Linked DNA regions of Homo sapiens. The protein of the gene in region 2 purifies or fractionates together with the protein of the main gene of each other region. This does not show direct contact. Each region holds a gene or a part of one and is shown on either strand. Other genes may lie near its edges.

Region 1 (3,652 bases), on a different chromosome or scaffold from region 2:
CCTGCAATCCCAGCACTGGCAACAGAGCAAGACTCCATCTCAAAAAAAAAAAGAACTATAGCAATCTTAACAAAAATAATACACAACAGTCAGGACAGCACGTAAAAGAACAAGGCTTGTTCCCCCCTTCCTTTTTTTTTTTGAGATGGAGTCTTGCTCTGTCACCAGGCTGGAGTGCGGTGGCTCGATCTCAGCTCACTGCAACCTCTGCCTCCCAGGTACAAGCTGGGACTACAGGCGCACACCACCATGCCCAGCTAATTTTTGTATTTTCAGTAGAGATGGGGTTTCACCATGTTGGCCAGATGGTGTCGCTCTCTCGACCTTGTAATCTGACTTCCTCCGCCTCCCAAGGTGCTGGGATTACAGGCGTCAGCCACGGAGCCCGGCCAGTTCCCCCTTTTCAAAATGAAGAAATAGATTCAAGGTACAATGCCAAAACATAATAGAAAAATAATTCCATTACCTTCTTTGCTTCCAACTATGTTATTAAAGTAGACAATCTTAAGATAATTAAACAACTTTACAAATTATTCTTCTGTATGATCTTTTGCCTCTAACCTGCTCACTTTACAAGGGAACTGAAGCTCAAGCAGGCAAATGCCTTGTTTAAAGATATATAGCTAGGAAGGAGCACAGCCCATGTTATGTAAACAGGACAATATCTGATTCAAGCAGTACTTCTTTGCATGACAGCAGATGTCACTATAAGCAAATACCTGAATTCACTTAAGCTGCCAAATATCAAGAACTGATGCAGGGCTGAAAACAGGAACAGTAAGACCCTAAGAGATGCCACATCATCGCTATCTTGCACAGTAAGATAGAGATGTAATTGTAATTGTCCAAAACTTAACATTTGTGGCCTACTTTTTCATTATGCAGTTCTGAATTTCTCTTTTTTTTTAAATTCAAACGGAGTCTCGCTCTGTCACCCATCTTGCACAGTCAAATGAATCTCCCTCCCCCTAAAATCCTCCAAAAAAGCTGCTGTTCTCAACAAACCCATCTGATCAGCTCCAAATCTGTGGAGTCCCAACAAGGGTGAAGGCCGTGATTATACAGGACAATGAGGAAAAGTCTAGATACTGAACCATGAGTTCCCCAATCTTCTTCCCCTGGAACATAAGGGTAAGGAAATCTCTCAAAAGGCAGAACAAACAAAAGAGGAGAATAAGAGAAAAATTAGAGAAACTCCAGCTTTCAGGTAAACATCATTAAAAAAAAGGGTAAGAAATGGTCAAAGAAATAATACAAGAAATGCTACAGAACTGAAAGAAATGAGTTTCCCAATTGAAAGGACACTTTCAGAAAACCTTTGTTACCAAGAACAAGAATCTCATCAGACTCCTAACAACAGAACTTCTAGAAAATGGAGCAATGCTTTCAAAATTGCGAAAAAAATTATTTCAAACTCAGAATTCGATAACCAAATGATCAACTAAATTAAGTAAAGACATTTTAAAGACATACCATTAGTTTCCAGACCAGCCTGACCAGTATGGTGAAATCCCATCTCTACTAAAAATAGAAAAAATTAGCCGGGCATGGTGGCGCACACCTGTAATCCCACTACTCAGGAGGCTGAGGCAGGAGAATCACTTGAACCCGGGAGGCGGAGGTTGTGGTGAGCTGAGACCATGCCACTGCACTCCAGCCTGGGCAACAGAGCAAGACTCTGTCCCAAAACAAAAACAAACAAAAAAACCTCTCATCCACTTTTCCTCAAAGCAAGTGAGACTATGCTACACCAAAACAAAGAAAGTAAATGAAGATGACATGAGATACAAGAAACAAAGGGTCTAACTCAGAAAAAAGATGAAGGGAATTCTCAAACTGGTGATAAAGGGAAGTCCCAAGAGCACAGCTGTGTAGCAAAGAGGAAGAAAACCCAATCCAGGTTGGAGAAGTCGGTTAGTAAGGGTATTCCAGGTAGACAATCAATCAATCAATCAATGTTTTAAGCTGAAATTGAACGGATTATGTGACCAGTTTGACCACATTTGAGGGTTTAAGTTGCTGAGTTTAAGTAAGCAAGTAGTAACACAACATACAAGCAAACCAAAAAATAAAGCAATTATTCAGTCCAGGAAAAACAAAACTGCACAACAAGGGCAATTCAAATGCAAAATATTTACCTTATATTTATATAAATGTTAAATATTCATTTAAACAAAAACTGCAATAACAGTACTGAAAGAATGAGGGGCAAACCAAAGTGTCTGAGGACAGTTTTGGAGGAGCATAATAGCCAGTACAGAATGTCTAAAATGGGGCCCGGCGCGGTGGCTCACGCCTGTAATCCCGGCACTTTGGGAGGCTGAGGCAGGCGGATCATGAGGTCAGGAGATCGAGACTATCCTGGCTAACACGGTGAAACCCCGTCTCTACTAAAAACACTAAAAAATTAGCCGGGTGTTGTGGCGGGTGCCCGTAGTCCCAGCTACAGGCTGGGGCAGGAGAATGGTGTGAACCCGGGAGGCAGAGTTTGCAGTGAGCCGAGATCGCGCCACTGCACTCCAGCCTGGACGATAGAGCGAGACTCCATCTCAAAAAAAAAAAAAAAAGAAAAGAAAATGTCTAAAATGGGAGAAAGGGAATTAAAAATAACAAAAGTATATATGTGTGTTACTCAGAAGTATGAAGTATAGATGTAAAGGGCAGAAAAAACAACTAACAGCTGTCAAAGGTGCCTGCCTGTAGTCCTAAGTACTCAGGAAACAGAGGTAGGAGGATCATTTATGCCCAAAAATTTGATGAGCAACACAGCAAGACCCTATTCTAAAAAAAATATAAATAAAAATAAGAGCTGTCAAGTAGACTTTGAGAAGTAGGAATCAGCTGCAGAATAAGAAACCGACTTGACAGAACATAGAAAAACTAAACAGAAGCCATCTGGAAAAAGAAAAACTAGAGAAAAAATTATATATTTTTTTCTTTTTTTCTTTTTTGGAGACAGAGTCTCGCTCTGTCACACAGGCTGGAGTGCAGTGGTGCAATCTCTGCTCACCACAACCTCTGCCTCCAGGGTTCAAGCAATTCTCCTGTCTCAGCCTACCGAGTAGGTGGGACTACAGGCGCTGCCACCACGCCCGGCTCATTTTTGTATTTTTAATAGAGATGGATTTTCACCATATTGGTCAGGCTGGTCTCTCGGCCTCCCAGAGTGCTCAGATTACAGACGAAGAATATTTTTAAGAAGGGCAAAAGCACATGTGAGGGAGTAGAAAAATGGCAAAACAAGAGGAGACTAACAAATGAAAGCACAATGGAAGACTAGAAAGATATGATATACAGACGCATCATCACACTCCAAAACTCCGACATTCTAGAAAGCATGGGCAGTTCACAGATGGCCAGCCTCTGCCAAACTGGGGGAGAATACTAACCTCTTCATATTCTTCACAGCCACTGCCTCTTCTCCCTCCATTCTTTACCTTCTATCCAAAGCACCCTGTTTTGTCATTTCACTCAAACCTAACTTCACAGAATAGCTTCACATGTTCCAAAGTTACTCACTAGTTAATCCATATTCCGCTGAAATCCCCAGGTTCTAATGTAAATGACTTTCAATTTGGGGGAAAAAAAGACTCTAAGTGTAAGAGAGGTGGTCATAATAACCAATCGTCAAAATCTTGCCACCACTCCACTT
Region 2 (3,652 bases):
TTGATAGATCTAGAAAGACAGTGATAGAAAGCTTTCGTTTTGAAAGATTGAGAATAAAAGCTTCAGTGGAAGTGCCCAGTTGTGAGTATCTTTCCTATTTGAAAAGAGATTTTTCTCTTTATAAAAGAAGAATGTGAAGTAATAGCATGGGTTAAGTTTGGGCCTCTTGAATAGTTGGTTCATGAAACTAGATAATGGTATTAGGAGTGGGAGTAGGTATTTTCAAGTACCTATCACTGAATTAGTTAACCAGCAATTTGTAGTCTCTGTAGTCCTTGTGTTAACCCTATGCCTAGCACTGTTGATTCAAAGAACGTTCTCTATATATGTGAAACTACAGGGAATTTCTTGCCTTTGAGAGCACCGCCTGCTTTTAAAAAGGTATGAGAGAAAATATTTATTTAAGCCTATACAAAACTATCAGGCATCTTAAGTCTTGACATTTCCCAAGGTTCTTAGAGTTGCTATGGTTGGAAAAAAATGTAATTTCAGTTTTACCCTGTAATTCTGTACCAAATTTTCTTTTTAGACTGTTCTATGACATTGTCATAATGTGTAACATTTTTGACAAAAAATGTGACTCCAACGAGTCGTAATAAATACTGCAATTAGTTTAAGACTTTGAATAATACTTTTCTGAGGAACTTTAAGTATATTTCTCTCTTCATTTTTCTGGATAATGATGAGAACATGGATTACATGAATTACAATATTTTAAGTAGCCCCATGTATAAGAATTTTTCTATTATCAGGTATTTGCTCATTGGAAGAAACATTTTAAAGGGTTTCACAGGATTTTTAGAAGAAAATACTTTTTAATAAGAAGTTGTGATTTATTTCCAAAGAAATTGAATTATTTGTTATAGCAAGTTTCTCACATGAGATGATATTGTATCTATATTAAGCAGGGAATCCCTGCAGGTAATTTAAAATTCTAGTGGATGTTAGTTTTTCAGCTTTGATATTTATTTTGGGCCTATTAATCAGAATTTTACAGTATAATAGATTTTGTAATATTTTTGGTGATGAGGATTTTACAGTATAACAATTTTTGTAATATTTCTTGTGATGGTAGGCTTTGTTGGGTGGTAAACTTTCTAGCACTAAGAAAGCAGCTCATAATAATATACTTTTAGTTTGTCTTGGGGTGTAGCTTTTTTTCCCTTTAGTTTTTATCTGTCACAAGTGTCACAGGCAGATCATCTTGAGATGTACTAGTGGCTATTGTGATTTTATTAACATTGTAATCTTTCCATTAAATACAACTTCTGGATTTGACTTTTTAGGTCTTTTGATGTACCTGGATTTCTTAACATTATTAAAACATTTAAATTCTTCTTCTAGAAGTCACTTGTTCGAACCCTTATGAACCTCATTTGAGTTCTAGATACTGCACTGGCTAGGCAAAGAAGAGTAAGAGTCTCTCTTGAGAGACTGATGATAGAGCAGCCACTGTTGATACTTTATTAGCTAGCACTTTATGCTTTATCAGTATACCTATTTTCATTTCTTATTAATATTTTTCCACATTAGTATTCATTTCCCCTTTGATAGCCTAAATATTGAAATTGGTTTACTGATTAAATCACTTTTGAAACAGTTTTTTTCCTTAAAGTGTTAAGGCTTGTTTACTAAGTTTCTGAAATTGTGTCAGTATATGATGTGTATTCTCACTTTGGTTAGCATTCATTTTCATTTCTGTTAATGTTAATTCTTGTAAAACTCCCTCAAAAAAATCAAACTAGTTGGAATGGTTTGAGAGAGGGACTTGGATTTTTCTTTTGTTTATTTTTGTTGAACTGATGAGTAAATGAAGAGTAGAATGTACAGTGAAGTTTGAAGAAAGCCAATTTTTCAAACATTACTGTCCCCCTGAACTGTGCCTTTTAATTATGATAGGAGATTGTCTTGTTCCTCCTACTAAAATATGATTATCTAGAAGAACTTTTCTAAGTGGTATACTTGATTTAAAGTATAGAAGATTTTAGTTGCTATGATAGAGAGGGGGACTTGATGTTCACTGTGACAATCTTTCATAGCCCAGGGTAAAATAGTGCATTATCAGAGCCTGGCATTGTAATTAGTTGTACATGTGTGGAAATACTGACCTATCAACTTGGAATAATTCTTCACTTTTTTTTTTTTTTTTTTGAGACAGAGTCACAGTCTGTCGCCCAGGCTGGAGTGCAGTGGCGCAATCTCAGCTCACTGCAACCTCTGCCTCCTGGGGTCAAGCGATTCTCCTGCCTTAGCCTCCTGAGTAACTGGGATTACAGGTGCGCACTGCCACACCTGGCTAATTGTATTTTTAGTAGAGACAGGGTTTCACCATGTTGGTCAGGCTGATCTTGAACTCCTGACCTCGTGATCCGCCCGTCTGGGCCTGCCACAGTGCTGGGATTACAGGCGTGAGCCACCGCGCCCGGCCATTTCTTAACTTTTAAAACACCAATAAAGCATTCTGGCTAGATATAAATACCTGTCCTAAGATGAGGCATTTTAGAGTCTTGAAGCATCCCTTATATACATTTCTGGATGTAACATGAAGAGGTGTTACAATTTTTTTTTATAGCTAGTCATTGCTGTTTCAGGGGTCTCATTAGATGAGAGTTATGCTTCATTTTGGTTATTGCCTTTTTCTTTTTTTGAGATGGAGTCTCACTCTGTCGCCCAGGTTGGAGTGCAGTGGCGCAGTCTCCGCTCACTGCAACCTCTGCCTTCTGGGTTCAAGTGATTCTCCTGCCTCAGCCTCCCGAGTAGCTGGGACCACAGGTGCCCACCATCATACCCGGCTACTTTTTTGTATTTTTAGTAGAGATGAGGTTTCACCATGTTAGCCAGGATGGTCTTGATCTCCTGACCTCGTTGATCCGACCACCACAGCCTCCCAAAGTGCTGGGATTACAGGCGTGAGCCACTGCGCCCGACCAGTTATTGCCTTCTTGACAATCCCATTTTTTGAAGTTTCAGTGTATGAAAGTATAAATTATGCATAGTACTGATGTCTATTCTAACTCCTGTTTTCTAAAAATTAACTTTCCTCGTTGTGATATTTATTTATTTTTGAGACAAGAGTCTTACTCTGTCACCCAGGCTGGAGTGCAGTGGCACGATCTCGGCTCACTGCAATCTGCCTCCTGGGTTCAAGCGATTCTCCTGCCTTAGCCTTCTGAGTAGCGGGGATTACAGGCGTGCGCCGCCACACCCAGCTAATTTTTGTATTTTTAGTAGAGACAGGGTTTTGCCATGTTGGCCAAGCTGGTCTTGAACTCCTGACCTCAGGTGATCTGCCCACCTCTGTCTCCCAAAGTGCTGGGATTACAGGCATGAGCCACCGCGCCCAGCCCATTGTGATTTATTTTAACATTAAATGCTAATAGAATTTTGATTAAGTGTAGTAATGTACTACTGGAGAGGGTAGTAGATGTTAAGAACTTGGGCCCTGAGGTCAAACCTGGCTCTGCCATGTTCAAGCCGTGTGACATTGCAGAAGACACTGAAGCAGAGCCTCATTTTTCTCATCTCAGGAAATGTGCACATGATGATAGTAGCATATGCCTCTTAGGGTTGTGAGAATTAAGAGCATTTACTGGCCAAGTGATGGAAATGGTCTCAAGAAGGCAACCTCAAATGGGACTTTTACTCACCAGCA
Region 3 (3,752 bases), on a different chromosome or scaffold from region 2:
ATTTCCTAAGAGGCATCATATTGCCTATCCTTCTGCAACTTACTTTTTTCACTCAGTATCCTGTTGCCATGTTGATATTTGATATCTTTCATTCAATACCAACAATAACAAGCGTTTTCCCCTCTTGTTTTGCCAGGCCCAGAGACGGAAAGTACAAAGACTAGTAAAATACATCCTTGCCCTTAAGGAGCTAAGTACCCAAAACCTGTAATCCATCTTGAGTCACCAGAGTACGGTTGCTCAGAAACAGCAGTGGTGCGGTGGAAAGGGCATCAACCCTGCGATCCGGACAAGTCACTCCATCCCTCTGATCATGCGTGCCCACCTACCACATGAGGATATCACTTCATAGACTTGCTGGAAGGGTTCATTGTGTTAGCCTGTTCCCTGAGCTCTCTTCGTGATCAAGAAGACTGATCAGATAAATCAAGAGACTTGCCCAAAATTACCTAGGAAATCTGTAGCAGCAGCAGAACCAAACTCCGGTCCTTGCTAAATCTAGATACCAGGCTAGCTTTTCTATGGACCCAGAATTAACCCATACAAATGTACAAGCTTTTCCAGACCAGCTGGGGTGAGATGAATGAAAATGGCAGCAACATCAATACCTCAGCTTCTTCAGCAACTTCATCAAGTAAGGCTGCCATGAGGAAGTGGGCCTAAAGGAGAGTTTTCTAGAACAAAGAAGGGGGCAAAGGAGTGGCTTGAAACTGCAAAAAGTGCAGACAAAAAAAAAAAAAAAAAGAATGAAATCTGGAGAGGATGTGAGGAGAGGTCTAGCAAAATGATTAAAAATTTGGACTTAGCATCAAAGTCAAACAGATCCATATTCAAATCGTGGCTCTTCCATGTCTTCACTATGTAACCCCGAGGGAGCCAATTTAACTCTCTTGGACTCCTCCTTTCTAAGCATTTTATCCACAGGGCCATAATAAAGATCAAAGGAGATCGTGTCTAAAATGTCTAGCACATGGTAAATCACTCAAGAGATGCTAGCCAAGAAAAGGAAAAAAAGGAAGGCGGCAAAGGGAAATAGGTACTGAACGGTGACTCACAGAAACCAGGATCCAAGGCTCCTTTCAAAAGTCAAGGCTTTAACCAATGAGGGTTTCTGATTAAGTCACCCTGGAGAAGGGGCTTTGGGCAAAGGTCTGCGGTATGCTGACGAAAGCTGGACGCTGGGAGAACTGGTAAGAATATGCTATTCTTCTGTTTCAAACTCTCCAGTAGCTTCCCATCCAGCAGCTTTCATGCCAAGCTTCCAGTTTGGCATGAAATCCGAACTCCTTAGCAGAGTTTACAACACCTCCACAATAAATAAGGGTCTGCCTTCCTAACTGACCTCATGTCTTCCTATTCCCTGCCCTGGCTCACTATGCTTTGACCCCTGAAACACACCATGTTTATATCGTCTTGGAGGGGGGGCCTTTCTCATTGCAGTTCACTTCAGGACCGAAAACCTTGTGCGCTTGGCTTCTCATCATTTAGACATCACCTCAAATATCACTTCTTTACAGATGTTGCCCTTGATCTCCCACTCCAGTCAACTCTATCACATCACCCTATTTGTCTTCTTCCTAACCCTGATTATCCCACAGGTCTCGTTTACTTACTGACTCGCTTAAGACTCACGTCCTCCCCACCGCCCCCACAAGAATGCGCTGTCCTTGAGAGAAGGGACTTTTTGTGTCTTGTTACACAGGCGGTATATAACAGCTACTCAACAAATACTAACTGAAAAATGAATTGCTGCGGGGGAGGAGGGTTTAGCTTTCTTCTCAGGGCTCAGAACGAGGCCTAAATAACTTAGGATGGGGGCCAACAGGGCAGTTAACAAGCAGGTGGAAAGAAAGGGCCGAGGAAGTTTCTGGTAGGATGCCGGAGTCGGAAGGGGCTGGAAGGGTGGGAGGGCCGGGCAGGACTGCTGGCCGCCGCGCGAGGCCCGGGCGGTGGTTGCGGGAGTTGGAGGAGCAGGCCCGGAGGTGAGATGGGGGCCGGGGTCGTACCTTGCGCCTGCAGCACCCGCAGCGCGCGGCCGTAGAGCGCGGAGGCCTCGGCGTACTGGCCGTTGCGGAAACTCTCATTGCCGGCGGCGCGGAGCTCCTCCACAGAGTCTGGGAATTTGGGGGCCATCCCGTGGCCAGGCCGGCGAGTTGGGAGCTCCTTCCTTCCTCCCCCGTGTGGTGCGGCACACCTTCCGGGCGCAAGCGCCGGCGGCGAATATCTCCGCCCAACAGCGAACCCGCGGCGAGGGGGCGGGGCCTGCGAGACCTGGAGGCCCGGAGCGTCCCGCCCTCTGCGCGTGCTCGGTTTGGAACTTAGGCTCCCTTGCACGCGGGGCGGCAGCATGCTCTGGGCTCCCTGAGTTGCTAGAACGCCGTGGATGACGCAGGGAAGGAGGCTGGCCCCGCTATCAGGGAGATTATGTCCTAGTGGGGTCCCCACAGGCAATTAACTGATAAGCAAACGAAGACTCTCATTTCATGTGATTAGTGCTGTAAGGAAAACAAAACAGGATAATGCAATGGAAAGTGACCACGTGTGGGCTATTTTAAATAAGGGGATGAAGGAAGGCCTTTCTCAGGGGGTAATAGTTGAGCTGAGACCAGACAAGATTTAGGGAATGCTGTTCCAGCCAGAGGGATGGTAAGTGCAAAGGTTCCAAGGCTAGAAAGTACCTGGTACCTAGTGCTCTATAGATATTTATTTAATAAATTAATGCACAGGTGGATTGATGGTGTCAAAGTCAACATATAGAGATGAATCTCTAAAGTTTAAATATTTTATTTGGCAATCAAGAATTGCAATTCAGGGCTTACACACAGACCAGGTTGTCTTTGGTATGTCAGAAGAACAAAGAGAAGGTTTGGAGATTTTTATAAAACAGAAATGTTACATATTGCTCTTCAAGGAAGTTTACAGGCACTAGTAAAGTGGGGGTTTATCAGCTTCTTGGGGAGCTGGCAAGCTTTGATTGGTAAGTGATAGTGGTGGATAAAACTCAGAATTGTAGCAGGCTGTTTCAGTAGCTATTAGATAAAACTGGTTTTAGGTTACAGCAGGCAGTTTTAGCAGCCAGGCTTGCAAAAAATTACTTTTTTGGAGCAATGTTATATGCCCTGAGTATTTGTTCCCCTGGCTTTTCAATTCTGTCTTAGTTGGATATGACAAGAATGACCCAATTCGTATGATCAGCTTTCAGAATGGATGAAGATCTTTCACAGAGTGTGACTTCAATTTATCTCCAGCCTCATCTGACGACTCTATGTCCCACGCATTGCTATCTACACACACTAAATTCTTGCTTCCTAGCCTTTGCTTGTTATCTCCTTCTCCTGGATTTTTTTTTCTAAATACTTTTTCTCCTGCCTAATCCTGAATTAACTTATAACATTCCATTCAAACATCATCTTCTCTGAAAGCCTTTCCTGCTTCCAGCCCCCTCCCCACCCCCCACTATGCTCCCTTTGCTCCCTATTGGTCTCTAGCTTTATCCCTAACTTTGCATTAGTCACCCTTTGATTGCCAGTTTGTAGTTTTCCTTAAACACTGCGAGGTCTTTAATGGCAGGAAGTGGGTCCTTTTTATCTTTGTTTATCCAAGACCCTAATAGGGTCTGGCATCCAATAAAAGTCATTGATTGATAAAGATCTAGTCTCTACCTTCAGGAATTCAGTTATAATGATCTGCATACACTTAACTCCACCAGACTATAAGCTTTCTGAGGGCTGGATGGCTGTTCCATCTGAAAT

The links.
Region 1: the proteins of AKIRIN2 (region 2) and RGPD3 purify together in Homo sapiens (affinity purification with mass spectrometry; 2 studies listed by BioGRID and IntAct, with this or other methods). This does not show direct contact.
Region 3: the proteins of AKIRIN2 (region 2) and TOMM34 purify together in Homo sapiens (affinity purification with mass spectrometry; 2 studies listed by BioGRID and IntAct, with this or other methods). This does not show direct contact.

Annotation. Positions count from the first base shown.
Region 1 is NC_000002.12:106,461,790-106,465,441, forward strand, and holds part of RGPD3 (ranBP2-like and GRIP domain-containing protein 3), read right to left. Parts: intron 1-3,652.
Region 2 is NC_000006.12:87,692,224-87,695,875, reverse strand, and holds part of AKIRIN2 (akirin-2), read left to right. Parts: intron 1-3,652. UniProt on the Homo sapiens protein: Molecular adapter that acts as a bridge between a variety of multiprotein complexes, and which is involved in embryonic development, immunity, myogenesis and brain development.
Region 3 is NC_000020.11:44,958,201-44,961,952, forward strand, and holds the start of TOMM34 (mitochondrial import receptor subunit TOM34), read right to left. Parts: upstream 2,198-3,752; 5' UTR 2,134-2,197; coding exon 2,007-2,133; intron 1,338-2,006; exon of another isoform or gene 137-1,337; intron 108-136; exon of another isoform or gene 93-107; coding exon of another isoform or gene 44-92; intron 1-43. UniProt on the Homo sapiens protein: Plays a role in the import of cytosolically synthesized preproteins into mitochondria. Binds the mature portion of precursor proteins. Interacts with cellular components, and possesses weak ATPase activity.